4 linked regions of the Homo sapiens genome follow. The protein of the gene in region 2 purifies or fractionates together with the protein of the main gene of each other region. This does not show direct contact. Each region holds a gene or a part of one and is shown on either strand. Other genes may lie near its edges.

The links.
Region 1: the proteins of OPALIN (region 2) and ATP2B4 purify together in Homo sapiens (co-immunoprecipitation; 2 studies listed by BioGRID and IntAct, with this or other methods). This does not show direct contact.
Region 3: the proteins of OPALIN (region 2) and WDR48 purify together in Homo sapiens (co-immunoprecipitation; 2 studies listed by BioGRID and IntAct, with this or other methods). This does not show direct contact.
Region 4: the proteins of OPALIN (region 2) and ATP13A1 purify together in Homo sapiens (co-immunoprecipitation; 2 studies listed by BioGRID and IntAct, with this or other methods). This does not show direct contact.

Annotation. Positions count from the first base shown.
Region 1 is NC_000001.11:203,629,822-203,636,845, reverse strand, and holds part of ATP2B4 (plasma membrane calcium-transporting ATPase 4), read right to left. Parts: intron 1-7,024. UniProt on the Homo sapiens protein: Calcium/calmodulin-regulated and magnesium-dependent enzyme that catalyzes the hydrolysis of ATP coupled with the transport of calcium out of the cell. By regulating sperm cell calcium homeostasis, may play a role in sperm motility.
Region 2 is NC_000010.11:96,348,981-96,356,004, forward strand, and holds part of OPALIN (opalin), read right to left. Parts: intron 6,311-7,024; coding exon 6,275-6,310; exon of another isoform or gene 6,216-6,274; intron 4,549-6,215; exon of another isoform or gene 4,476-4,548; coding exon of another isoform or gene 4,467-4,475; intron 2,431-4,466; coding exon 2,398-2,430; intron 847-2,397; coding exon 727-846; intron 1-726. UniProt on the Homo sapiens protein: Central nervous system-specific myelin protein that increase myelin genes expression during oligodendrocyte differentiation. Promotes oligodendrocyte terminal differentiation.
Region 3 is NC_000003.12:39,062,015-39,069,038, reverse strand, and holds part of WDR48 (WD repeat-containing protein 48), read right to left. Parts: intron 5,990-7,024; coding exon 5,849-5,989; intron 3,229-5,848; coding exon 3,150-3,228; intron 2,492-3,149; coding exon 2,409-2,491; intron 2,294-2,408; coding exon 2,164-2,293; intron 2,083-2,163; coding exon of another isoform or gene 1,969-2,082; intron 269-1,968; coding exon 180-268; intron 1-179. UniProt on the Homo sapiens protein: Regulator of deubiquitinating complexes, which acts as a strong activator of USP1, USP12 and USP46. Enhances the USP1-mediated deubiquitination of FANCD2; USP1 being almost inactive by itself.
Region 4 is NC_000019.10:19,660,658-19,668,244, forward strand, and holds the start of ATP13A1 (endoplasmic reticulum transmembrane helix translocase), read right to left. Parts: upstream 3,020-7,587; 5' UTR 3,010-3,019; coding exon 2,614-3,009; intron 1-2,613. UniProt on the Homo sapiens protein: Endoplasmic reticulum translocase required to remove mitochondrial transmembrane proteins mistargeted to the endoplasmic reticulum.

The sequences.
Region 1 (7,024 bases), on a different chromosome or scaffold from region 2:
GTTACATTGTGCTAGACTCTATCTGTGATAAAAGAGTTTGGTTTGGGCATTGAGAGTTTTACTCCTTTGTCTTCTATAGAAGAGGAGGGTCTTGAATCAGGAATGTCTGTATGTCCAAACTTGGTTTCATGTAACAGTGCAGTTGATGAAGGCCCAGAGATATCCCCTGCTTCAATCAAGGTTACACAGCAGACAAGAGTCCAGATTACCAGTTTTCTGACTCCCAGTCCCGTGCTCTTCTGGCAAGCCTGGCAGCCCACTAGAACAAACTCCTCCCTGTCTGCCCCCTTCCAACTTCCTGGCTCCCGCTCTTTCAGGCTCCCTCACCAACACAGAAGGGGAATTGACTAAAGGATTAATAGCCGTCACCTACATGAGCCTACGTAAAAAGAGCCCTGAGTCATGTAGGGCCTAGCCCCAGGGTTTCCAGGAGAAGAGAGGGAGAAAAAGAGAGAGAGAAGCCATCCTGGAAACTCAATCTCTCTCCAGAGCGACGATCAGGATGGGGAGGCGGGGGTGGGTAGCACAATGATTTGGGTCAATGACAGGACAGCCAGGTGTGCTGCCCTTGCCAAGGGAGTGCCTAGAAGGCCTTGCTTAGCTCAGGCATGAAGGCTCCAGGCAGGCACTGCTTGCTGGTTTCTTTCAGAATCACCTAATTAGAGAATTCTAAGGGACACTAAAGGTTTGGTCAGCAACAATCTCTGGGCTGTTTGGTGAATTTCTTCTCTTACAGCCTGGGACCTGTCTCCTCAAAAGTTAGGTGGGTGACTCTGGAAGCCCTCAGTCCCCAGGTTCCCTCAGCTGGCCCCATGGCATGGTGGGAGAATGCCTGTCATCCTACCTCCCTTTGTGGCCCACTCATCAGGGCCCAGGTGCTCCTGTCTGGACAGGAGAGGCTGTGGGTGGGGAGCAGTGAGGGTGGGAAGGTAGGCTTCCTAAAGGACCTTACTTTCTTAGAAGATCCCTCTGTGTGCTCCATGGGGACTCTCAGCACCCAAGAGCTTAGAAAAGACACTCCTATTGGTCAGGAGTTTTGCAGATAAAGTGAGAAGAAACCAGGAATCTAGGAGTGCCTCTGGCATGGACTTCTCTCTCTGGCTAAGTATTTGGAAAAATTTCAAACCTGAAAGGTTGAAAAAAATAGCACAATAAACAACTGCAGACCCTTTACTTAGTTTCACCTTTTTTTTTTGAGACAGGGTCTCACTCTGTCAACAGGCTGGAGTATAGTTTCATGATCACGGCTCACTGCAGCCTCAAGTTATCCTCCTGCCTCAGCCTGCTGAGTAGCTAGGACTACAGACAGGTGCACAGCCTCCATGCCCAGCTAATTTTTTATTTTGTAGAGGTGGAGTCTTCCTATGTCATCCATCTCTACAAAAAAACAAAACAACAATAACAACAAAAAAATTAGCCAGCCATGGTGGCATGCACCTGCTCCAGTTACTTGGGAGGCTGAGGTCGGAGGATTGCTTGAACCTGGGAGTTTGAGGCTGCAGTGAGCTATGACTGCACCACTGCACCCCAGTCTGGGTGACAGAACAAGGCCCTGTTTCAAAAATAAATGGGGGCTGAGTGTGATAGCTCAAACCTGCAATCCCAGCACTTTGGGAGGCTGAGGAGGGTGGATCACCTGAGGTTGGGAGTTTGAGACCAGCCTGACCAACATGGAGAAACCTCGTCTCTACTAAAAATACAAAATTAGCCGGGTGTAGTGGTACATGCCTGTAATCCCAGCTACTCAGGAGGCTGAGGCAGGAGAATCGTTTGAAATCAGGAGGCGGAGGTTGCGGTGAGCTGAGTTTGCAGCATTGCACTCCAGCCTGGGCAACAAGAGCAAAACTCCATCTCAAAAAATAATAAATAAATAAATAAATGGGGCCGGGTGCGGTGGTTCATGCCTGTAATCCCCGCACTTTGGGAAGCTGAAGCAGGTGGATTGCTTGAGCCCAGGATTTCGAGCCCAATCTGGACAACACGGTGAAACCCCGTCTCTACAAAAAATATGAAAATTAGCCAGGCATGATAGCATGCGCCTGTAGTCCTAGGTACTTGGGAGGCTGAGGTGGGAGGATAGCTTGAGCCCAGGAGATCAAGGCTGCTGTGAGTTGTGATTGTGCCACTGCACTCCAGCTGGATGATAAAGCAAGACCCGGTCTCAAAAACAAACAAACAAACAAAGAGATGCATTTCTGTTGCTTAAGCCACCCAGTCTATGATGTTGTTTTAGCAGCCCAAACTAAGATATGCTAAGACCAATCTTTCACCCAGTGGTTTTAGTATCCATTAAACGCTAGACTAAATCAGCTATTATAGTAGAGGCTGCAAACTGGTCAATTTAAAGTTCCAGTCTGGCACTGTGTCTCACCCATTATCCTGGTGCTTTGGGAGGCTGAGGCAAGAGGATCGCTTGAGCCTAGGAGTTCAAGGCTATGGGCCACTGCACTCCAACATGGCTGACAGAGTGAGACCCTATCTCTAAAAATAGGTAGGTAAATAAAGATAATGTTGGCTAAAAGATGCAAAGTTTCAGTAGACAGAAGGAATGTTTCTGAGATTTACTGCACTACATGGTGACTATAGTTAATGTAATGCATGTTTCAGAATTGCTAAGAGAGATTTTAAATGTTTACACTACAAAAACAACGATAAATGTGTGAGGTGATGGATATGTTGATAGTTTGACTTAATCGTTCCGTAATGTATGCATATATCAAAACATCACATTACACCCCATACATATATGAAACTAGTATTTTTCTATTAAAATTAAATTTAAAAAAATTTTTTTTGAGACGGAGTTTCACTCTTCTTGCCCAGGCTGGAGTGCAATAGTGTGATCTTGGCTCACTGCAACCTCCGCCTCCCAGGTTCAAGCGATTCTCCTGCCTCAGCCTCCCGAGTAGCTGGGATTATAGGCATGCACTACCACGCCCGGCTAATTTTGTATTTTTAGTAGAGACGGGGTTTCTCCATATTGGTCAGGCTAGTCTAAAACTCCCGACCTCAGGTGATCTACCCACCTCAGCCTCACATAAAATTAAATTTAAAGAAAAATCTTGTCATTACTACTAGATTTTATTAGTTGGCATTTACTTTATTTATTTATTTATTTATTTATTTATTTATCTGATATGGAGTCTCGCTCTGTCTCCCACTGGAAGTGCAGTGGCACAATCTTGGCTTACTGCAACCTCTGCCTCCTGAGTTCAATCGATTTCCGGCTAATTTTTATATTTTTAGTAGAGACAGGGTTTCACCATGTTGGCCAGGCTGGTCTCAAACTCCTGACCTCAAGTAATCCACCTGCCTGGGCTTCCCAAAGTGCTGGGATTACAGGTATGAGCCACTGCGCCCAACTGGCATTTACTTTTTAATTTTTTGAGACTGAGTCTTGCTTTATCACCCATTCTAGAGTGCAGTGTCATGATCAGAGCTCATGGGAGCCTCAAACGCCTGGGCTCCAGCGATCCTCCTGCCCTGGCCTCCCAGTGTGGTAGGATTACAGAGTGAGGCCTTGTGTCTGGCCTCGTTGGCATTTCTGTTCAGAGTTTTCCCTCCCTGCTCCTCCCTGTCCATGTCAACTGTCAAAATAGACTCAAGGAATTTTTAATATTCAATGTGTTACAATCTATTACCATTATCCTTTGGAATGCTTAATGTGTTTCACCTCTGGTTGGCGGGAGACCCTTTAAGCCAGCTCCTGTGACAACATGTCATGACATGAGCATGCTCTAGTTTCTGGCACAACACAGTTCACTTATACTTTCCCAGTCTCAGACTTGAAATTAGTCATTTTTTCAAGGAGCACTGTTCCTTACAACCTCCCCCGTGGGAAGTTGTACTTAGAAATAAAAATCCAGGTACTAGGTGTGTTCCTTTCCACAGTCCTTTCAGTGGACAGACCCACAAGATATACAAAAAAACCCCGAAAGATTCTTTTTCCCCTTCCCCCATTCCATACTTATATCTCTCTTTTTCCATAGTGAGACCCTGATTTCCAGAAATATCACCATAGTTACTCATTTCATCTATCATACAATAAACGAAACAGTTTCCAATTTATGACACAAATACCACAACCAATAACATGTCTACAAAGTAAAGGTCAAGATTTCTTTGTAGGTGGTTTTTTTTTTTTTTTTTACTTAAAATATGAATATAGAATCAGGGAATGAAGGTTAAAAAGTACTTAAATTAGGCCAGGCGTGGTGGCTCACGCCTGTAATCCCAGCACTTTGGGAGGCTGAGGTGGGCGGATCATGAGGTCGGGAGATCGAAACCATCCTGGCTAACATGGTGAAACCCTGTCTCTACTAAAAATACAAAAAATTAGCCGGGCGTGGTGGCAGGCGCCTGTAGTCCCAGCTACTCAGGAAGATAAGGCAGGAGAATGGCGTGAACCCGGGCGGCAGAGCTTGCAGTGAGCCGAGATCCCACCACCGCACTCCAGCCTGGGCAACAGAGCGAGACTCTGTCTCAAAAAAAAAAAAATTTCTTACTTCTCCTGCTTTCTTATCCCAAAGGTGGCATACTATATACTGTACTATGTCTTGGTTTTTTCACTTAATAATATATCCTAACAATCATGTCATATAAGTTCACAGGGCTCCTAGTCATTCTTTTTTTTTTCTTTTTGGCTACCTAGGATTCTATTGTATGGACTGTACCATTGTTTGTTTAACCATTTTTTAAAGAATGGGCATTTGGATAGTTTCCAATGATTTCCTATTGTAAATATGCCTTTAAAAACCACCTTGTGGCTGGGCTTGGTGGCTCACACCTATAATCCCAGCTCAGGCAGGTAGATTGCCTGAGCTCAGGAGTTTGAGACCAGCCTGGGCAACACGGTGAAACCCCATCTCTATTAAAATACAAAAAATTAGCCGGTGTGGTGGCTAGCACTTGTAATCCCAGCTACTCACGAGGCTGAGACAGGAGAATTGCTTGAACCCGGAAGGCAGAGCTTACAGTGAGCTGAGATCGCGCCGCTGCACTCCAGCCTGGGCGACAGAGCGAGACTCTGTCTCAAAAAACAAACAAACAAACAAACAAAAATCACCTTGTACGTAGCTTTCCATATTTGTGAATGAGCACCTTCTGGATAAATTCCTAGACGTAGGATTGCTGGGTAAATGTGTACGTAGCTTTGTTAGATATTGCTAACTTCCCGGGCTCAATACTAACAGCCCGTCTTACCCCTGGGACTCCCAGCGCCCAGCACGGAGCCTGGGATGTTAGATGGGCTGTTAGTATTGAGGGTATACTACTTGTTTGTATTCCTGGCATTGATTTCGCAACCTAGGTAGACCTTGCCATGAGGTGTTCTAAGCTAAGACTTTCCTTGAACCTAGCTGAGAGTCCCTGACCTTCCTACCAATAAACGCACTGCTCCAAACTCCCTTTGCCACACCCCAAGTGAAGTGGCAGAAAGGCAAGAGGAAGGGGGTCTTAGTAATCCCATCCCAGTTCATCTTCCCTGAGTTGTCCCAGGGATTTGTGCATGAAACTTGGGAAACTAGAGCAGAGGTGAGTAATGAGGCTGAGGATCTTAGGCAGAGAGGAACTGGGGTGAGGAAAGGTAGAAATGGGGGCTCTGCCCCTTGGCACCTATGTTCTCAATCCTTTCCTTTCCTTTGGCCTCTCCACTATCCTTCACACATAGACTGCCTCTCAAGCCTCTTCCCTGACCCAGAGCCCTTGGCTCTGGTCCTCACTAGATCCTGCCTGGTTTCCCTCCTCAACTCAAGTTCATGTAGGCTGAACACAGAGGACTGGCTTAAGGTAGAGGCAGAAATAGAAAGTCCCTGTCATTTCTGTTTTAACATGTACAGAGGAAATAAGTCAGTGGAACAAGAATGGCTCACACAAGGGAAAGAGGAAAGAGGACACAAGGAGAGATACTGGCAGAGGAAGCCAAGGGCAAAACATTCCACACAAGCATTTTGGACTCCAGCCCCAGGGCCTGCTCTAATCCTATGACCTGCAGAAAAGGGGACATGAGTGGAGAAAGGTTGTCATCCCAGTCTGACAAGGCAGAGGCCTTGCTTTTCTCATCCCTCTTTCCTTCTCACCCCTACCCACCAAATACCCACTGGGATGACAGGAATCAATGCTTATCTGAGAAGCAGGGAACTGGGCTGGGTAGGGAGCCTTGTCTGAGGGGCGCCCTTCGGGGGAAGAATTCAGATTGCCTGAAGAATCCTTCCAGAGAAGGATAGTTAAGACTCTGGGTGGGGTGTTCCCCTTCAAGGTCAAACACTTGGAGCTAATCTAACCTAAGCCAAACAGTTTTTTAGGGGTTTGGCTAACGGGGTTTGTCTTGGTCATTCTGGGGACTAAGAATGAACAAGATCCTTTTCTCTCTCCAAGGCTTAGTGGGTCTGCAATGCTCTGTCCTAGTGGATAGGGCTAATCCATGTCTTTGGGTGCTGGGTCCAAGGCCAGGAGCATTGAAAAAAAAAAAAAAAAAAGAGAGAGAGAGAGAGAGAGAGAAAAGGGGTTTCGGAGTTTTTGAGAGAAGCTAAATTCTTGAATAAGGGGCAGTTTCCGGTGGAAGGCTTGACCTGCTGACAGGTGGCAGGGAGCAGCCCAGACCCCGTTCCTCTCGGGACCTCCGGTTAGTGGGAGTGGGGAAGAGTAAAGCCTCCCGATATCCTGGCCCAGGACATCCAGCCCCTACACATCACCTTACCTCTTCCAGCCCCCACACCTTCGGCAAATTCTAACTGCTCTCCTTCTGCCCCTAACTGGGCCCTCTCATTTTGATTTTCTTCTGACAAAGACCACAGCAGTGTGACAAATCTGCCTAGCCACGCCCTGTCACCTCTACCGTGGAGAGCAGGCTTTCCATTGTGCAGAGGGGAAACTGGAGGCCAGACGGCGGGTTAGGAACTCGCTGGCGTCAGGCTGATTCCAAGGCCCCCAAACTGCCCGTGCTTCTCTCAACATGCCTTGACCCAGCGCTCTAACATCCCAGGCTCCGTGCTGGGCGCTGGGAGTCCCAGGGGTAAGACGGGCT
Region 2 (7,024 bases):
CCAAGACATATTAAATGTTAAGTCACTTGTCCAGGATCATATAAATCATAAAGTGGCAGAGTCAGGTTTAGAACCTCAATTTTCAATCTCTTAATTAATGTTTACCCATATGATAACAACCTTGAATGTCAATAAATAGAGAATAGAATTAGAACCCAGAGTCCACATGACACAGTTGTGTCACAACCATGGAACCTTGTTGGATATGAGTCTAGGTGGCTTTTGATTTCTAAGCATAGTCCCCAGAACAGTCTGGCATTGGAGGGGTGGATTGGATGGGGAGGATATAGATTCCCTTGTGATTCTATCATGGTGTCTATCATGGACACCTCAGCCCCTCTTCATCTCCTATCTTTCTTAACGTTATCTCCATCCTTTCTTTGTGAAGCTTGTGCGCTTTTGTTTCTCAACTTTAGAAAGCACACCCACTGTACAGACATGTGTTTGCCATGGCAACAGACATCCTTCTCCACTGCTACTTTTTGTTACCCCAAATACCATCTTTGTCAGGAATTCCTCAACTGACCTGAAGGTTTTATGACAAATCAGCTCTGTCTGGTGCCTAATGTCATGTCTGCAGTGGAAATTATGGCCCAGAAACTTCCAGCATCTTGTCCTCAGGAAATAGACATGGGCCCTGAATTCTGACACCCTTAGTCCAAAAGCCAGTTCACTGAAATACTGGTGGCTGCCTATACATCTGGACCCAAAGAAGCTAGTAATCACCTCCATGGCCTCAATGCTGCTTCTTCTTCGGTGAATCAAAGTAAATAGTAAAGCCACCAGCAGGGCTGTGGCCACCAGCAATGGTATGCCCGCCGCTAATCCAAGAGAGGGCCCACAGTCCTGGCACAGAATGAAAAACACAGGGTCAGAGGAAGCCCAGAGTCTTCAATAATAAAGGAAAAATTCAATAGAATAAAAATAAAACAAAAAATCTGCATGGATCATAAACGTCATATACAAAATCAAAAGGGTAATGAAATACTGTGCAAAAATGTTTGTAACACACATGACAAATGACTTACTTTCATAGGACTTAATTTACACAGTTTAAATCTGTTGGAAAGAGTAATGATCAAGTAGAAAAATGGGCAAAGGATATGAACAGGTATTCTTTAGAACAGAAATACAAATGTCTCTTCAATGTAGGAAAAGCTGAGATACAATTCAGAGCAACAATTAGATGTCATTTTCACCTGTTTGGCTAAAAATAAAAGCTTTTATTATACACCACACTTTTTTTTTTGTTTGAGATGGAGTCTTGCTCTGTTGCCCAGGCTGGAGTGCAATGGCACAGTCTTGGCTCACTGCAACCTCCGCCTCCTGGATTCAAACGATTCTTCTGCCTCAGCCTCCTGAGTAGCTGGGACTACAGGTGCATGCCACCACACCCAGCTAATTTTTGTATTTTTAGTAGAGATGGGGTTTCACTATGTTGGCCAGGCTGGTCTCTAACTCCTGACCTCATGATCTGCCTGCCTTGGCCTCCCAAAGTGCTGGGATTACAGGTTTGAGCCACCATGCCCAGCCATACCACACTATTTTAATATGAATTAAAAAAATTTATTTGCACTTAATGTAAATGACGAGTTAATGGGTGCAGCACACCAACGTGGCACATGTATACATATGTAACAAACCTGCACGTTGTGCACATGTACCCTAGAACTTAAAGTATAATAAAAATAAATAAATAAAAAAGTGACATTTAGCCTTTCAAAAAAAATTTATTTGCAATAAATGCATTAACCTATTAATTTTCAAATTCCCATTTTGCTTTGATCGGAGTGGAAATAGTCATGCTTTTAGTTACATAAGTTTTCAGATTTGCAGACTATCTGGAAATATTGAAGATAATCTGCAGAAACCCTATAAAAGTGCAACTGTTATTTAATAATGGATTCACCTTCACTTCACTTTAGGGGGAAATTGATTTTATTGAAGAATAATAAAGTATATGAATCACAAATATATAAGTGGATGACTTTTCACATGAGGAATACACCCATAAGACCAACACCCAGATCAAGAAACAGAACATTAGCAGTATCTCAGGATCCCCCTCAAATCTCTTCCAGCCTCCTTGTGCGTGACCACTATTCTGAAATCTATTGCCATAGAGTAGTTTTGTCTGTTTTTCAGCATAATATAGATGCAAATATAAGATATGCACTCTTTGTGTCTGGCTTCTTTTGCTCAACCCTTTGTGAAATCCATCTGTGATTTTGCATGTTCTCCCTCACTTTTGAGCGGAGCTGGTCAAGAATAATTCTTGAGCCAGATTCTGTGCTTAGTGACAGTTCACCTATCAAACTTTAAAGCTCAAAACAAATGCTCAAGATGGATGGAGCATTATTATTATCCCCATTTTATAAATTTAAGTGATATAGTTACCGTTTCTTTCCCACCTGTGACAGGAGAGGACGTCTGTATGGAAAAAGAACATATATTGTAAAAGAACAAAAAGTCTATAGAATATACATTATACAAGACAATCTGCCAAAGTTTAGGCTATAAAGCCTAAAGTTTATCCCTTTGCTAAACTTTCTGTTAACAACTACCAAACAGAACCTAACTTGATTGCTTCCCAGGTAAGAATTGGAATAAAATTTGGCTACAAGGAGAAAAGAATTAGGAAATTCAGGCAATGTCTTCATTATTCACCCTGTGGATGTACCGTGACACATTTTACAACTCAAAAGGGCTTCCTCCTGTCCCTAGTCAGCACACCTGGCACACTTTGGGCCTACTTGTCCCCATTGCTAGAAGGGAAACACATATAAATACTGGTGGAAGCAAGGCTCTTTAAGGAAGCCTTGCTTGTTTTCAAGTATGTGATGAAACAAATGGCAGAAGTTGTCAAATATCCATGCTCCTGGGGATAATTCTACATGAAATGAATGCATTACATGTTTCTGGTCCACTGAGTTATTGGTCCAATGAGTTATTGGATTTCACTCATTTATAAGATATTTCAGGCAAGAGTTTACCTTGATTAGGAAATCTAAAGGAATAAAGTTCTGCATGAGAAACTATGTAAACTACACTAAGTGGTATGCTGTGGGATTAAGAGCACAGGTCCTGGGCTCACACTGCCTGCCATAGAACAGCCATTTCTCAATTTACAAGCTAAGGGGTTGCATGTCTCTATCTACACAATATCTACAGGGATAGTAGTAGCTGCCTCTAGGGTTATTAGGAGGATTGAATGAGGAGCAGAACTATGAACTCTTGTCAGCCCTTTACACTTTGCAAAGCTCTGTCCAGATCTGTTATTTATTTAATACTCTCAGCAATCTCATCAAGTATACTGGAGTCCTGGGGCTTGGACTTTTGACAATTATTAACTCCATTTTACAAAAAAAAAATGTAATAGATCTCAGAGAAGTTATGGGGCTTGTCCAAGGTTTCACAGATAATCATAACTCTAATCTGAACTTGGATGTTTGACTTCCAAGCCCAGACCTCTTTCCCAGAGAGCTCCCATCAAAAGAAGGTTTTGATGACCAGGCACTGAAACTTGGTACTTAAATGGTTGTCCTTTGACCTAATCACAATCTCCCCAACCCCTACCCCCACACTACTTTAATCCTGCATTTCCCTAAGGTGCTCTAAGGGTAGTAGGAAGAATCAGCCATTGTTTCAGGTAAGGCTTCCTGTCTTCAGAGTACAGAAATACACTTAGGGTGGCTTTCACTAAAAAAAAAAAAAAAAAAAGGAAGGTGTTAACTCTAAGAATATGGGAGTGTCCCATGGAGCCCAAGGACAGGTGGGAAGCTGGTTTCTCCAGGGAGTGGACCTTGGAACGGGGAACTTGTGTGAACCGAAGGCACCCTCCTTTCTCCTTCGCTCCAGAGCAGCACGGCCTTCTGCCTGTACTGTTCTCTGATGTTTGCTTCTCTCTTTCTCTCCAGATGGACTTTTCTGCCCTCATAAACTCCTGCTAATTGTACCAGCTAATGCCATGGAGCACTTAGGATGTGCCAGGCTGTTCAAGAATTTTTCCCATATTGACTTATTTATTCTATACAACTGCCAGTGAATAGTAATGGGACTATGATGATCTCATTTTACAGATGAGAGGAGCAAGGCACAGAGAAGTGAAGTAACTTGTGTAAGGTCACACAGCCCTAGGTGACACCCCCCCGGGCAGTCTGGCTCTGGGATCCATGCTCTTAACCACTGTGCTACATGGCCTCCATGGCCTAATGCAGTGTCTTAGTCCCATTTTTCATACTTGACAGTTCAGTATGGACTGAACTGACAAATAGACTGAACCTGGCATTTCAGTCCTCAGCAGGGACTGGCCAGCAGGGAGCCCTGTTCCAAACTTCCCGCAGAGAGGGATCCAGGTGCCCACCTCTGTCCCACTTCCCAGGGCACTGGCATTCCCAGGCTACCCAGCTGCACTGAAGTGGAAGGGTTATGCAGTAGAAATGTGACTTCCAGGCAGGATGACCTACCATCCGCATTGTCCAGAGAGCTGCCCAGGACTTTCAGTGCTAAAAACAGACAACACCAGGCAAAGCAAAATGGTTGGTTGCTCTACACGGGATCAAAGGGGTGAAGAGACAGTTCTCAGAGAAATGAGCTGTTAACCAAGAGAGTACTCCAAAGGGTGATGACTGGCCACATAAGGGCTCTCTTCCACCCCATTCACCCCCACTCCCCAAGAAATGGCTTCTTGCTTCTCTGCATTCTCTTGATGTGATGGGCCAAGATAACACAGAACCTGGAGTGTCTATGGACCTGCTGGGTTCCAACAGCCAGGGGAAAGTTCCAGCAGTGATTGAAGGAAAAGGTTTTGACAGGAAAAAGAGGAAGAATTAGGGAATTTGCCTGAAACCAACAGGCAGAAGCTGAAGCAGGGAAGCAGAGCAAGTTGGGGAGGTTCAGAAGTGCCCCCCACCAGAGGCTGGAGCAGGTGCCAATGTATTCAGTTCACAGAGGTCTGGGCAGACAGTGGTGGGCACCACAGGTCCAGCAATAAGTCACAATGTTCTAACTTTATGCTACTCTCTAGAACTATGCCCCCATGTTTCAGTAAAATGAGCACTGGCTTAGGAGTCCTCTTACGAGTAAGATTCAGTTTATTCTCTTTGAATAACCAGACAACTTATCAGAAAAATGTGGCACAGCCAAGCCCACTAAAAAACTGGGCCAGAAAAATGCCTTGCTCAACCATAGTAGTGCTACTGATCAGATAACAACCTTGGCTCTTAGTGTTATCTATATGCAATGTGCAAACAGAAGACGGAGGATCAGCTGTGGATTGAAACTCTAACATCGACAATTGAAAACCTCAATTTTGACTTGCAACTAAATGCCATAATCAAGAGCCATAAAATGTTCATTCTTGTTGACCCAATCATTCCCATTTTAGAATACATACAAGGAAATTATCTTAAATGCAGATAAGGATTCTCTAAAATGCCATGTATCACAAAGTTATTCCTAATGATAGTTAATCAACTGAAGAAATAATTAACTTGAAAAAATATTATGCGATCATAATATGATCACATGATTATGTGATTAACCATATAACAGTTATGGTTATAAAGACTAGTGGAAAACATTTAGATATAAAATTATATGTAGAGTAAGAAAACAATAGTACAAAGGCAACAAAAGTCAAAATTTATGTAACGCCAAACAGGACAGGAAGGGTTACACCAGTTTTCTGCTGATGAGAGTTTAGGTGTTTTATTGTTGTTGTTGTTTTCCTATTTTCCTTTTCAAAATGTGTATTTATAAGTTTTATAATGGAAATAAATTCTCTCAGCATCTCTCAACTATTCCTCAGTGCGTTTTGAAAGTTTATGTAAATGGCCGGGCACGGTGGCTCACACCTATAATCCCAGCACTTTGGGAGGCTGAGGTGGGCGGATCACCTGAGGTCAGGAGTTTGAGACCAGCCTGGCCAACATGGCAAAACCCTGTCTCTACTAAAAAGTGCAAAAATTAGCCGGATATGGTGGTGCACACCTGTAATCCCAGCTACTCAGGAGGCTGAGGCAGGAGAATCGCTTGAACCCAGGAGGTGGAAGTTGCAGTGAGTCGAGATCATGCCACTGCACTCCAGCCTGGGTGACAGAGCAAGACCTTGTCTCAAAAAAAAAAAAAAAAAAAAAAAAAAAAAAAAAAAAAAAAGAAAGTCTGTGTAACTTATCACCGTGTGTGAGGGGTTTATGTGAGTTCTGGAGACCTACTGTAAATTCTGCACTGGTCTTCTCTGCGTTGCCTGGTGAATGGGGGCTGCTGTACTTACTGTGTTCGCCGGCAGGGTGAAGTTCAGTGAAAAACTCTGCAAGATAGAAGTAAACATTAAAGCTCCCAGGGATGGTCAGCAAGCTCCTTCCTCACTTCCTCAAACTCACTGACCCTGGTGGATTCCGAGAGGTCATTGATCCTATAGACTCAGCCAGCCCCCATCGTCCTGCACAGTCTTGGCCCCAAAAGAAGGAAGGGGAGGCAAGGAGCCTGTCATGAGTTCCTCCCTCAGCATCAAGTCAGTCTTGCCACCGCCCCCAACCAGGTCCTCGACCAGGATCAGATGAAGAGGCAGCCTGCAAGGCTATTGTCTGAGGGGTCCCATTCACAAGGGCAGCAAACACATGACTAGAAATTCAGCAAAAGGCTAAAATTATGTTTATTCCCTCTAGAACTCCTTTGAGACAGAAAACTGTTGAATTTAGAAGTATTTTGTGTTTTCTCCTTGGAGTAGAAGGTAAGACCCCCAAAGGGCATGGTCTAACAAGAACACCTGATCCTTACCCGGGGAAGGCAAGGCTTCTGTTTTTGCTACAACTGAGGCAGAGGTTCTAGGTTGCTGGAGCTGAAGTGGCCAGGAGGACAGGGGAACAGCAAACCCTTCTCTTTCCTCCCCTCACTTAGTAGATGGTCTCACCTCTCCCGCAAATATGGAGTCCAAATTTAAAGATCGTGGGCTCAGTGGAGCACCAAGTAGCCTGCCCAGGGCCTCAGGTGGCTCCTTTCTCCTCCCTGTCCCTAGCCCCTG
Region 3 (7,024 bases), on a different chromosome or scaffold from region 2:
GCTGCAGTGAGCCAGGATCATGATGCCACTGCACCCCAACCTGGGTGACAGAGTGAGACCCAGTCTCTAAATAAATAAATATAAAGAAGCTAATCGTAAAATACCTGCTTAAAAAATAGGAGACAAGGTATGTGAAAAATAATTTTTTTTTTTAAATAAAGAAATAAGCTCCTCCTTACCTTTTCAGTGGACCCTGATACAATGATTGTTCCCAGTTGATTCATGGCCAGGCTATAAATGGAATCTTTGTTTCCACTTAAAGAAGAAGCTATTGAGGATAAACGGAGCTAAATGTTAACAAGATCATCAGCTGTTTAGTAACTAGTCAGCAAAAACTGCAAGTTTATTCAATTTAGAAAATCTTATCTTTATAAGTCCTCTACGGAAAAGAAATCTACCTATAATGGAGATAAATCTAAACAGTATTATTATCAAAATTTACATATTTTCTGGATTTGAATATATACAAATGCTCAATATCTGATAAACTGCAGTGCCATTGAAAAGCTATCCGCTTAAATGATATGTTTAAAGCTATTCATGTGCCATAAATATGAAAAAATGTTCAATTTCAGTATTTTTCAAACACAAATCAAACCAAAAACACTGTTTCATACACCAAGACAAAAAACAAGGTAATACTTGATTGTAAAAAGAAAACAGTACAATGGAACTCTCATATATTACTTATGTGAAGATAAATAGGTACAACCTTTCAGGAAGGAATTCAGACTATAGCAAAAATCATGTTCATACTCTCAGTATCACTGAAGTAAAAAAGATGTATATGAAACTGTCTATATAGTATGAACCCAATTTTACAAACATATTAAAAAGTTGAGTAAATGAGTTACTACATGTACTGTTTAGAAAAATGTCTACTTGTAGCAAGTACTCAATACAGGTTAGCCATTATTAGTATTATTTTTATTATTATGTATTAAAAAAAAGTGTGATATCCTCTCTAAACAACTCTAAGCAAGATGTAGCAGAATCTGTATCCACTAAGCCTGGGCCCTGACCTTGTGACAACCTGCTTTTTTTTTTTTGCTTTGTTCCCTCCCATTAGTGTCTCTTTGAGGCAGGCCTTACATCCAGACTTAAAACCTAATGATGTACCATGACAGCCCCAACAGGGACCAGCTAATGAATCAGAGATAATGTACAGGTGAAAAATCAAGAACAAGGGAAAAAGAATGTTGAGACCTTCACATATTTCCTGGAAAACAAGGCAAAACAACAATCAAGAGATTATAAACACAAGTCTCCCAACTTACCCTTCTTGGCACATACTAGGCTATATTAGTAAAACTGTATTGTCTATGTCAATGTGAACACTCCACAGAGTCGTTATAAAATGGACCTATAATGTAGGGATCCAGAGAATGCAGGCCCATGTCTTCAATGTAGACTTTCCAGGTCAGGCCTAGCCAAAAATGTGCTCCTAACAGTCCCTTCTGAAACCTGGCCTAGAGGACTCTACTAGGTTGGGCCAAGCATGAAGCTCAATTTCAAATCTAGACTTGTATGAGCCTGACTTGGTAGTCTGAGATCTCTTAGCTGATGAATCATCCATGCTGTGAACATCTCTGGATTGCCTCTAGAAGCACTCTACCGTTCTGGCTCTTCTGGAATTGGCTTGATTCCTCAGGGCTGCTCTAAAAGGCAGAAAATTTGATAAACTGGCACTGGAAACCTTTTCTTTCTTTCTCCTGGGTATTTTTCATCTTGGCTATTAACTCAAAAGCTCTTAACACTTTAAAAAGTCAGAAAACCGCCTACTTTGTCAGAAAATCGCCACCTCCTTCAATAATACCTGCTGAGTGTATGGATTTGGACCAGGGAATGCTGTGGGAGATACGAAGTAGTAAGACAGTCTCCTCTACCCTGCAGGGACTTACATTTTAGCTAGGGAGCTAAGACATGCACACGTACAAAAAATAACCAGGTTATACCTGGAGAAGTTACCATTTTTAGACTGCAGTGAGGAACTAGCTCTTTGTTGTTCAATCATACTCTTGGGGGCCAGAACGCTGTAGGTAGAAGCACTCTCAAAATATGAAACACTCTCTCGATGCAAACCTATCAAAAATGTTTTATAAACCATTCTTTATTTATGTTAACTTGGATCACTTTCAAAGAAGTTTCTTTTAAACACCTTACTTGTGACAGTGTTATTTGAGGCAGTCAATGCTGTTAGAGTATTCACATCCCAAAGGAATATTTGTCTGTCCAACCCAGCTGATGCTACTAGTTCTTTATCCTTGGCATATGCTAAGGCCTTTACGTAATCCTGTAATAGAACAGACATACTATGATCTATTCTGTAGATCAGTAATAAAATGAGCCACACAAAGTACTGAGATCCCAATATTACACTAAAGACACTGAGAACTGTATTGTTTTACCTTATGTGTCCTTAATGTTGACATGCAAAATCCCTTGTGTGCATTCCATACTTTTACTGTCGTGTCAGAAGAAGCAGATATTACTAGAAGAAGCAAAGAATTAACAAACTCCTTAGTAGTATGACTTAAAACTTTGAAAACTTATCTTACAACAATGTAACATTATTTCAAACTAACATATTCTCTCTCTTACACACACAAACATACCTAAAAGCTCTTTCTAGAACCTATTGTATATTGCCTCAATTTTTTAAAATCTCAAGACACATGTTCAAAGAAAAAAATATATTTTTAAAACAAGCAGTGCAAACATTTTTAATGTTCCAGTTGAAGGCTCAACTAATGTGATTGAGAAAAATTCCTGTAACTCGGACTGCAAAACCAAGGAATGGATCTCACCAAAATTAGAACAAAAAGAGGTATTAATAAGGCTAAAAGAAGAATACATATAGTACGAGTCTATATACAGTTCAAATGAAGGCAAAACTACCCTTTGGTGTTCAGAAGACAGAAGAGCAGTTACCTTGGGGCAAGAGGGAATAACTGAAAGGGTGGCAAAGGGTGGCACAAGAGGGCTTCTAGTAATATTGTTTCTTGATTTGGGTATTCACTTTCTAAAATTGTGTTGAACTGCAATCTCGAAGTGTGTGTACTTTTCTGTATGTATGTTTCAATAAAAAAGCTTATATAAAAAACAAAAAATATATCAGAAGCCCAATAATAATCCAAAGAAATACTTACATGTTTTCCCATTACAACAGAGTACAATGTCGTTTACCCAATCAGTATGGTGTTCCATAGATGCTATATATGGATCTTGCTGAAATTAAAAGAAAAATCCTAAGAGTTTATATGAGAGAATGAAATATATTACAAATGATAGATATGGTTAAATTCTTCAATTAATGTGACATACTGCTCTAGGCATTAAAACTAACACCTGAATTCTGAGTAGAATCTCACCAAATAGGTGATGCTTCCAGATAACAGATGTAAACAGTTTTGTTTCAGGACAGTTTTACTCTTACTGAAAGCTTAGGTTTCCAGGACAAATACTTCATTTTTTTTTTTTTTGCCTTGTTAAAGTGAAGGCAACAAGCTCTGGACTAGGCACTGTGTGTGACATAAAACCCTTTAAAAAGGGTTCACTAGAAAGGACATGACTTGTAGGAATCTGTAGGCTGTGGGGATTTGAATGAGTGGTGGTGAAGGCTCAACAGCAGACAGCAGGGGCAGCAATGAGTCTGATGAGTGCACTAAGGAGCCTGGTCTGAATGCAGAGGGAGATAAACACTTCTGCTTTCAGCTTCCTACTGTTGGGTTCACCCTCTGAATTAAATGTTTTCCTCATGGTACCTACAGGCCTTCAGAGATGAAAGGAAACCCAACGGCTGAGAAAGGACAACCTGTGTCACCATTTCAATTAGGTGATTCGAGATTCTACTTCTCTTACCTGGCTTAATAACCAGGAGAGGCCTTTTAAAGAACAGTATTTAGTTACATCCTACACCTAAAACAGGCAAGTTTGAGACACTTTATGGGCAAACAGAACAGCTCTGTACAAGTCTGTTTGACAAATAATGCTATTCAATCTTGTCATAAAAGGAAGACCAGAAAAAAGATGTTTGGGGCAAGACAGGCAGATTTCCAGATTCTTCAGGTTAGTTCTTTTGGGTGTTTTTCTTAATTTGTTTGAAATACTGTGAATGCTCAGAAAGGAGACATTCCAATTCAATTATAAGTACCAAAAAGCATTTCAAAGCCAAACATAGTTTTCTTACTTTTCATGCTTTTGACATTTGGCCACCACTGCATGGTCCATTGGCTAAAGAATTCAAAGCCTGCCAGACTGAAGTTATAGGCGCATAAAGTAGTGGTTCTTTTTCTGAACTGAATATCAGACTTGTAAAACTTGCTAAAAAGACACAAACTTTTAAAAATACAAGGTCTAGCACTAGGGTTTTCAAGTTGGGCTGGGTACTAATTCTCTGTCACTTCCTAGCCACATAACCATGGGTTTCTCTGAGCCCATTTTCTCATCTATGAAAATGGATCTGGCCAGGCGCGGTGGCTCACGCCTGTAATACCAGCACTTTGGGAGGCCAAGGCAGTTGGATTATCTGAGTCTAGAAGTTTGAGACCAGCCTGACCCACATGGTGAAACCCCGTCTCTACTAAAATTATAAAAATTAGCTGGATGTGGTGGCGTGTGCCTGTAGTCCCAGCTGCTGAGGAGGCTGAGGCAGGAAAATTGATTGAAGCCAGGAGTCAAGAGGTTGCAGTGAGCCAAGATCGCGCCACTGCACTCCAGCCTGGGTGACAGAGCGAGACTCCATCTCAAAAAAAAAAAAAGAAAAAAAAGAAAATGGATCCTAATAGGTACCTTGAGGGACACTGAAAATTAAAATCACATTGGATATGAAAATGCAAAGAGCGTATGGCACATAATTAGAAGATCAATAAATGCTCTTTTTTTCTTCCCTGATTCTTCTTTTCTCTGTCATTCACAATATAGGTGTTCCAACAAAATACTAAAAGGGCTCGTTACCATTTGCCTGGGGATTTATCTTTACACATATTTAAACCCTGTTCCCTGCTTAAGAAAGGGAAATCTTTGAAGGGGAGCATGTTGTCTTCATAGTTTTAACACCAATTTTATATTATCTTTATTTATTTATTTGAGACAAGGTCTCCCTCTGTTGCCCAAGCTGGAATGCAGTGGTGTGATCACGGCTCACTCAGCCTCAACCTCCCATACTCAATCAAGTGATCCTCCCACCTCAGCTCCCCGAGTAGCTGGGACTACAGGTGTGTGCCACCATGCCCAGCTAATTTTTAAGTTTTTTTTTTTGCAGAGACAGGGTATTGTCACATTGCCCAGGCTGGTCTCGAACTCCTGGACTCAAGGAATCCTTTCACTTTGGCCTCCGAAATTGTTGGGATTGCAGGTGTGGGCCACCATGCTCAGCCTAACCTTGTATTACCTAGTTAGGCCGTGTGGGGTTTGTGAGGATCCTAATTACTTTTAAGTGAGGAAAATAAAATATTTTTTCAAGATTAATTAGAAATGTAAAAGAATATTCAATCTTTTTTTAGTAAGGTTACCAAGAGGTTGTTGGGGAACATATTTAAAGCAAAAAAATTAATTGTTGAAAGTAATCCCCCTACTAGCCAAATCACTTTGTTCCTTTGTGGCAAAGAACTCTGTAAGGCAAACCTAGTTTAGGGAGTCCTTGTCTTAGCTGAAACACTTCTGAAACTTTCCTAGGGATGGTTTTTCTCAGAGGCTTACAGAATTCTGGTTGCGATGTCTTTATAGAGTGTACCAAATAACTCAGCATTCAGAGAGATTAAATCTGAAACTGTGAAAAGTGTCATATTAGACAGTAAAAGCCATTTGTCCAGAATTTGCTGGGTACAGATTTTAATCCCTGCATTACCTTGTGCTGATTGACACTCCATATTCTTATGATAGAGTCTCGACCGGCTGTGAAAAGTCTATTTAGTGCTGGATCCAGCTGCAGAGCATTGACTCCATTTCGGTTGTACTTCTCCACTTCATCTCGAATAACATAGGAAACCTGACAAATGTGTCAACATATGCTTTTTATAAAGTACAAGCCATGCAGTAATAAAATATAGTCTACTAGTGGCCAATCTGAAACAGAAAATCCCATGTTTTCCAATATGTACTTTTTCAACCCAATACAAATTTAAATTTTACTCCTTAAAGACTAAAGGGCTGAAGAGAAGGATGGTATCAATGATAGCCTAGTCCAACATGAGTAAGTTGCTAAACTACTATAACTGCTTCCTGACTGGACTCCTTTCCCAGTCTTTAGTCCATTTTTCACAAAGCAGCTAGAGTAATTATTTAAAAATCTATCTCAGCTCTGCTCAAAAACCTCCAGTTGCTGACTACTAGACTCATGATTGGATGTAAATTCCTTAACATGGTCTCAAGTACCCTGTTTGTCTTTCTGGCCACTCATCTCTGCTCCAGGTTCTGGTGCATTGTGCCTCCAGACCATCACACATGCTGGTCCTCTCTGTTTGGAAGCTCTTCCTCCGACCTGTCTGGCTAACTCTTGTTGCAGCCTTCAGGTTTCCATTTAAACAATACTTCCTTTAGAAGGCCTTCCCTGACTTGCCAAGCAAAATGAGGTTTTGAGCTCCTATCACATACTAAACTTTTTCTTCAGGGCATTTTCCCCTACTTTGTTACTGTTGGTGACCTCTGTCTGTTCCTTGTGAAAACAGGGGATCAACTGAAAACAATTACACCTAAGAAAAAGTCAATAAGCTGGCTGGCAGCCAGAAGTAAAACTTTCTAATGTAATGAAATAAACAGTTAAAAATTAACTCAAGATGGACTAAAGACTTAAATGTTAAGACTTAAAACCATAAAAACCCTAGAAGAAAACCTAGGCAATACAATTCAGGACACAGGCATGGGCAAAGACTTCATGACTAAAACACCAAAAGCAATGGCAACAAAAGCCAAAATTGACAAATGAGATCTAATTAAACTAAAGAGCTTATGCACAGCAAAAGAAACTATCATCAGAGTGAACAGGCAACCTACAGAATGGGAGAAAATTTTTGCAATCTACCCA
Region 4 (7,587 bases), on a different chromosome or scaffold from region 2:
GGCATCTGTAGTCCCAGCTACTTGGGAGGCTGAGGCAGGAGAATGGCGTGCACCCAGGAGGCAGAGCTTGCAGTGAGCCGAGATTGCACCACTGCACTCCAGCCTGGGCGACAGAGCAGGACTCTGTCTCAAAATAAAAAGGCTGGGTGCAGTGGCTCACACCTGTAATCCCAGCACTTTGGGAGGCTGAGGCAGGGGGGATCACGAGGTCAGGAGTTTGAGACCAGCCTGGCCAATATGGTGAAACCCCGTCTCTACTAAAAATATAAAAATTAGCTGGGCATAGTGGCAGGCACCTGTAGTCTCAGCTACTCGGGAGGCTGAGGCAGAACAATCACTTGAACCTGGGAGGCGGAGGTTGCAGTGAGCCGAGATTGTGCCACTGCACTCCAGCCTGGGCAACAGAGCCAGACTCCATCTCAAAAACAAACAAACAAACAAACAAAAAAACCCCAAAAAACAAAACAAAAACAAAAACAACAACAAAAAAAGCTGGGAAGCTGGGTGCACAGACAGCACCTAATGCCCAGGGCTCTGCTCTGCTGAAGGTGACATGAACTCAAATAGGAAGAACGCTGCCAGGCACCCACCCAGTACGTCCTCAATTCACGTGAGCCAAGCCCCCGCCCCATCACAGGCCCCCGGCCTCCTGCTCAGCTCTGCCTCTTCCACCAACCCTGCTCACTACACTCCACAGCTCCACACGCACATGGGGCTCGATCGTGCCTCAGCAAAGGGCCTTGGCATGTGCTGTTTTCTCTGCCCGGAATACACAGTCACACAGCTCCCTTGCTGCCTCAGGCTTTTGCTGAAACATCACCTTCTCAGGAGCCCCTCCCTGGCTGCCCCATCTAAAGTTCCCGGCAATGTCCCATCCTGTCCTGATGTTAGATGTCATCTCTGTTTGGCATCAACTGCTGACTATGAGTTCTCCCTCCCAGTAACACCACAAAGGCAGGGGGATTTGCCTGTTTTGTTCACTGCTGTTTCCCCAGCACCTAAGACACAGAAATGTTGAATGGAACTCGTTCAGTGCTCCCTGGACCCCGTGAACCGCCATCCATTCCTCTGCTGCTCTGCTAGACCGAGCTGCATGGAGACGAGCTGCATGGAGATGGGGGGAGCACAATGATGACCCGCAGAAACAAAGCGCCACCGCACGGGTGGTTCATGGGCCTCCAAAGCAGGCAGCAAATAACAACAATCACATAACTACAAACGTGACGTCACGGAAGAAAGGTACAAGAGGCTATACGCTGTGATGGCCCCAGGGCGGGCACTCTGCAGATATCATCTCCGCTTCTCAAGATGGCACCCAGTAGTTGTTAGTTACGGTTCTCAGTTTACAGAAGGGGGAAACTGAAACTCAGAGAGCAGAAGCGGCCCTTTCTGAGATCTGAATCAAACCCAGATCCACCTCTCCTGGCTGATGGCTGTTCAGCTCCTCCCACTTCTCCATCCCTGGAGAGGAAGTTAAGAGCTAAGCTGCTTAGCTGCAGGTCAAAAGGCAGCTGAAGTTTGAGCGGTGCCACAGTCCCCTTAACCCCTCCTTTATTTTGTCCCTCATTGGTGTCTTTCATTGTACTACCTCAAAGCTACCACGTTGAGCTCCTCCCCTGGGATAGATAAGTCTTTTTGAAGGACAGAACAGGTTGTCTCTCAGGAGAGGAGAATGAGGATTCTACCCACATTCAGAGCCAGCCAGGGTGGGGGGCTTCTGTCTTTCTGTAGCCCTTGATGCTGTTCCCTTTTCCTCTTCTTGAGGCAAACACACTCCTGGAATCAGAGGGGAAGCTTCCTGATATACCTCAGTGTCCATGGCTCCAAACCTGCTGGTGTCACCTGAGGCAGGCCCAGAGAGAGACGACACAGTCACTGCTTCAGGCCCAGGGAAGCTCACAGTCACCAACTCCTCCGACGACACTTGGTCACTCAGAACTCTAAACTGTGGGTCAGGAGCGCGACCTTGCTTGCTGTTGTATCCCCGACAGAACTCAGTATCACCACCCTCATTTTGCGGAAAGACATCATGTAAATGACTCGCTCATAAACACCTCTGCCTCTCTTCAACACTGTAATTAACTGCATTTCATGCTCCTTTCCATCACAGTATGGAAGACCACTAAGCACTGGACAGCAAGACTTGGTTCAGTCTAAGAACCAACTAAGCTTCATAGATGGGGGAAACCTATCCCAGTGATCTCGCCTTACACTTTGAAAACCAAGGTAGGAGACAGATGAGATGGAAGGTAGGGCCGTTTCCAGAACAAGAGTAGTCGCTAATATGGGAACTAGTATAAACAACTCCTACCTGACCTGGGCGACGTATGCTGGGCCCTGCGCTAAGCCTTTTACAAGTATTACATCACTGAATCTAAATGACCATAACAGGGAGGACTTCAGAAAAAGGAAATAACCCGCACCAGGCATGCACAGCAAGTCAGCAGTGGGGTCATGATTAAGCCTGCGCCAAAGTGTAGAGGGTGCCCCTGGGAATCCAGGCCAGGCAGATGAGTGGCCCAGGTCGCGATGGTGACCGACAGGAAGGCCGCAGCTGGGACCCACGGCGAGGCTCGACCGTGCTGGGGGTCGGGCTCGCGTGTACACACTTACCGGGGTGCAGGTGAGCGCGCAATGCGCGTGCACAGACCAATGCCCCGAGAGGACAGTGAGCGCGTGCGCGAGGCAGATGGTGGCAAGCACGAGCAGCGCAGCTTCGGGGATCTGCACCCAACTGCTGCCCCAGCCCCAGCAGCCAGCGGCTGCGGCACCCAACCAGGCCGGGTAAAGCAGCCCGGCGAATGGCAGCACCGTGAGGCGCCGCAACAGCGCCAACCGCCGGTACGGCCACACGGCAGCCACCAGCTCGTCACCGTTCGCTATGAGCGCCGGCCCGGCGGCAAGGAGCGCGCGCGGCTGCGGCCCGGGCTTGGGCTGCCCGTCAGGCCGGACCCCGCAAGGCCGGGCCCCGCAGGGCACCGCGTTGCCCACCGCCGCCGCTGCCGCCATCTTTCCTAGCGCCGCGCTCACTTCCGGGCAGAGGAACGCCTCACTTCCGAAGTTTTACTTCCGGTAAGCCCTGAGCGCCGCCATGGCAGCCTGGACTAGGAAGAGCCAGGGCAACAGAACAGGCTGGCCCCGGCAGGGACTACTTCGGGTGCCGCCATGACAGGCTGTGGCCGGAAGAAGAGGCTGGGCGTCGCCATGACAGAGAGGGACTGGAAGACCTAACGGTGCCTGCCTCCGCTGCCACGCCGGACTGAGACCGGAAAAGACAAGGCCGGCAAGGCGGGCTTGGGCGCCACCATGACAACCTGAACCAAAAAAAGCGAGCCCTCCTCCTTGACTACACCAGCACCACCTGTCACCAGGGGCGAAGCCTGGACCCTGCGGAGGCGGGGTCGGGAGCTTCGGAGTTCAGGAGGCGGGGCCCGGTGCGGGGGGCGGGGCTTGTGAGGGGCGGGGTCGGGGACCGCCCCGGAACACAACCACACCGGACAAGAGCCTTAATGTGATAGATAAGAATTACAAATACTAGCCGGGCGCGGTGGCTCACGCCTGTAATCCCAACACTTTGGGAGGCGAGGCGGGTGGATCACCTGAGATCAGGAGTTCAAGACCCAACATGGTGAAACCACGTCTCTACTAAAAATACAAAAATTAGCCGGGCGTGGTGGCACATGCCTGTAATCCCAGCTACTCGGGAGGATGAGGCAGGAGAATTGCTTGAGCCCGGGAGACGGAGGTTGCAGTGAGCCAAGATTGCTCCACTGCACTTCAGCCTGGCCAACAGAGCAAGACTGTCTCAAAAAAAAAAAAAAGAAAAATGAATTACAAAAACCACTTTAGGCCGGGCGCGGTGGCTCACGCCTGTAATCCCAGCACTTTGGGAGGCCGAGGTCAGGAGATCGAGACCATCCTGGCTAACGCGGTGAAACCCCGTCTCCACTAAAAATACAAAAAAAAAAAAAAAATTCTCCGGGCGTGGTGGCGGGCGCCTGTAGTCCCAGCTACTCCGGAGCCTGAGGCAGAATGGCGCGAACTGGAGAGGCAGAGCTTGCAGTGAGCGGAGATTGTGCCACTGCCCTCCAGCCTGGGCGACAGAGCGAGACTCTGTCTCCAAAAAAAAAAAAAAAAAAAAAAAGAAATTACCACTTTAACATAAAAAATGAAAAACTGGTGTTTACTTGAAATTATATACTTCTAGGCCGGGCGCGGTGGCTCACCCCTGTAATTCCAGCACTTTGGGAGGCCGAGGCGGGCGGATCACGAGTTCAGGAGATCGAGACCGTCCTGGCTAACACAGTGAAACCCCGTCTCTACTAAAAATACAAAAAATTAGCCGGGCGTGGTTGCAGGCGCCTGTAGTCCCAGCTACTCGGGAGGCTGAGGCAGGAGAATGGCCTGAACCTGGGAGGCGGAGCTTGCAGTGAGCCGAGATCGCGCCACTGCACTCCAGCCTGGGCGACAGAGCGAGACTCTGTCTGAAAAAAAAAAAAAAAAGAAATTATATAGTTCTATATTATTAACTGTACTGTTGCATAAATGCTATTTGAACAAAACCACAATAGGACTACTTAACAGTACCAATTAGTAGGATTAAACAGTATGTGTGACAAACAGTAACTATTTTATGTTTCTTTTTGTCCTCTGATACAGCAAATTTATTTAAACTTAAAATTTATTGGATATTTAAATTTTGTAGCTTATATTGTTGCATATTCTTTTTTTAATTTTTCGAGATGAAGTCTCACTCTGTCGCCCAGGCTGGAGTGCAGTGGCGCGATGTCCGCTCACTGCAAACTCCACTTTCCGAGTTCAATCGATTCTCCCATTTCAGCCTCCCAAGTAACTGGGATTACAGGCGCATGCCACCGCTCCGGCTAATTTTTGTACTTTTTTTTTTAGACGGAGTCTCACTCTGTTGCCCAGGCTGGAGTGCGGTGGTGCGATCTCAGCTCACTGCAACCTACGCCTCCTGGGTTCCAGCGGTTCTCCTGCCTCAGCCTCCCGGGTAGCTGGGACTACAGGCGCGTGCCACCATGCCTGGCTAATTTTTTGTATTTTCAGTAGAGATGGGGTTTCACTATGTTGGCCAGGTTGGTCTCGAACTCCTGACCTTGTGATCCGCCCACTTTGGTCTCCCAAAGTGCTAGGATTACAGGTGTGAGCCAGCGCTCCCAGTCTAATGTTTTGTGTTTTTAGTAGAGACGGGTTTCGCCATGTTGGCCAGTCTGGTCTCAAACTCATGGCCTCTAATGATCTGGCCGCCTCAGTCTCCCAAAGTGCTAGGATTACAGGTGTGAGCCACGGTGCCCAGTCCTAGTCTTGTTTTGTTTTCTTGGGACGGAGTCTCACTCTTGCCCAAGCTGGAGTGCAGTGTTGCAATCTAGGCTCACTGCAACCTCTGCCTCTTGGGTTCAAATGATTCTCCTGCCTCAGCCTCCTTAGTAGCTGGAATTACAGGCATGAACCACCATGCCTGCTAATTTTTGTATTTTTAGGAGAGACAGGGTTTCACCATGTTGGCCAGGCTGGTCTGGAACTCCTGTCCTGGCCTCAAGAGATCTGCCTGCCTCGACTTCCCAAAGTGCTACAGGTGTGACCCGCTGCGGCCACCCACTGCATATTCTGGTTTTTTTTTTTTTTTTTTTTTTTGAGACGGAGTCTCACTCTGTTGTCAGGCTGGAGGCTGGAGTGCAGTGGCGTGATCTCAGCTCACTGCAACCTCTGCCCTCGGAGTTCAAGCGATTCTCCTGCCTCAGCCTCCCGAGTAGCTGGGATTACAGGCGCCTGCCACTGCACCCAGCTAATTTTTTGTATTTTTAGTAGAGACGGGGTTTCACCTTCTTGGCCAGGCTGAGTCTTGAACTCCTGACCTCGTAATCCACCCGCCTCGGACTCCCAAAGTGCTGGGATTACAGGCGTGAGCCACCGGGCCCGGCTCTGGTTTTTTTTTTTTTTTTTTTTTTTTTTTTTTTTTTTTTTTTTTTGAGATGGAGTCATGCTCTGTCGCCCAGGCGCAATGCTGTGATCTCGGCTCACTGCAACCTCCTCCTCCTGGGTTCAAGCAGTTCTCCTGCCTCAGCCTTCTTAGTAGCTAGGATTACAGGCATGCGCCACCACACCTGGCTAATTTTTGTAATTTTAGTAGAGACGGTGTTTCACCATGTTGGGCAGGCTGGTCTCCTACTCCTGACCTCATGATCCGCCTGCCTGGGCCTCCCAGAGTGCTGGGATTACAGGCTGAGCCACCGTGCCCGGCTGCATATTATTAAGATACATGACTTCGTAAAAGGAGAAAGGAAATGTAATAGGACTTAATAATCACATAGTATCAAATAAGATAATCTTCAGTAAAAATAGGAATGACATGTTTCTGTCCCATGATACAGTTCGATATACTTACTTTTTCAGTTTTTTCTCCAATATTAATTCTTTCCCATACAAGGTCCAAGCTTCTGCTCTTGGAGTCTGGGACTGGACCCCTTTCTGGTAGCAATACCTTTATAGAATGTTTACTCCAGGCCGGGCACGGTGGCTCATGCCTGTAATCCCAGCACTTTGGGAGGCCAAGGCGGGCAGATCACGAGTTCAGGAGATCGAGACCATCCTGGCTAACACGGTGAAACCCCGTCTCTACTAAAAATACAAAAAAAAAAAAAAAAAAAAAAAATTGGCCGGGCATGGTGGCACATGCCTGTAGTTCCAGCTACTCGGACTCGGGAGGCTGAGGCAAGAGAATCTCTTGAACCTGGGAGGCAGAGGTTGCAATGAGCTGAGATCGTGCCACTGCACTCCAGCCTGGGCGACAGAGCCAGACTCCGTCTCAAAAAAAAAGAAAAAAAAAGTGGTTTACTCCAGTTTTTCCCTGCATTTAATAATTTTGTTCCCTTTAAGGCATGTTTTTATTTTCTTGGCTGAAAAGGAGTAGCCTGAGAAGAAGTAACGTGTAGGAAGCCTTGGCCATGGGACCAATAGCCTCATAAATTCCTGATCTCTGGAGGACATCAGGGCCTCCTACCTGTTCCATTGTGACCTGGGAGTCTCTCCAGCTCCAAGGTGGAGGGATGGCTTCACTGAACACGGAGTCTGGAATTCCGTGCACACTCATGTGACCGGTGTTCCGGAAAAAGAAGCAGGAGGCGGCTGGGCGCGGTGGCTCACGCCTGTAATCCCAGCACTTTGAGAGGCCGAGGCCGGCGGATCACGAGATCAGGAGTTCGAGACCAGCCTGGCCAACATGGTGAAACCCCATTTCTACTAAAAATACAAAAATTAGCCGGGAGTGGTGGTGGGCGCCTGTAATCGCAGCTACCCGGGAGGCTGAGGCAGGAGAATCGCTTGAAACCGGAAAGCGGAGGTTGCAGTTAGCTGAGATCGTGCCATTGCATTCCAGCCTGGGCAACAAGAGCGAAACTCCGTCTCAAAAAAAAAAAAAAAAAGCAGCAGGAAGGACCCACTGAGTACAGGAAGCCGACAGGGCCTGCTCCGGAAAACCAGGAGCTGTAAGGTCAGCCGAAAGGACGAAGAGACCTGAAGTCAGTCAAGTAAGTTTTATTAACCTGCTGGGCTGCTCCCCCACAG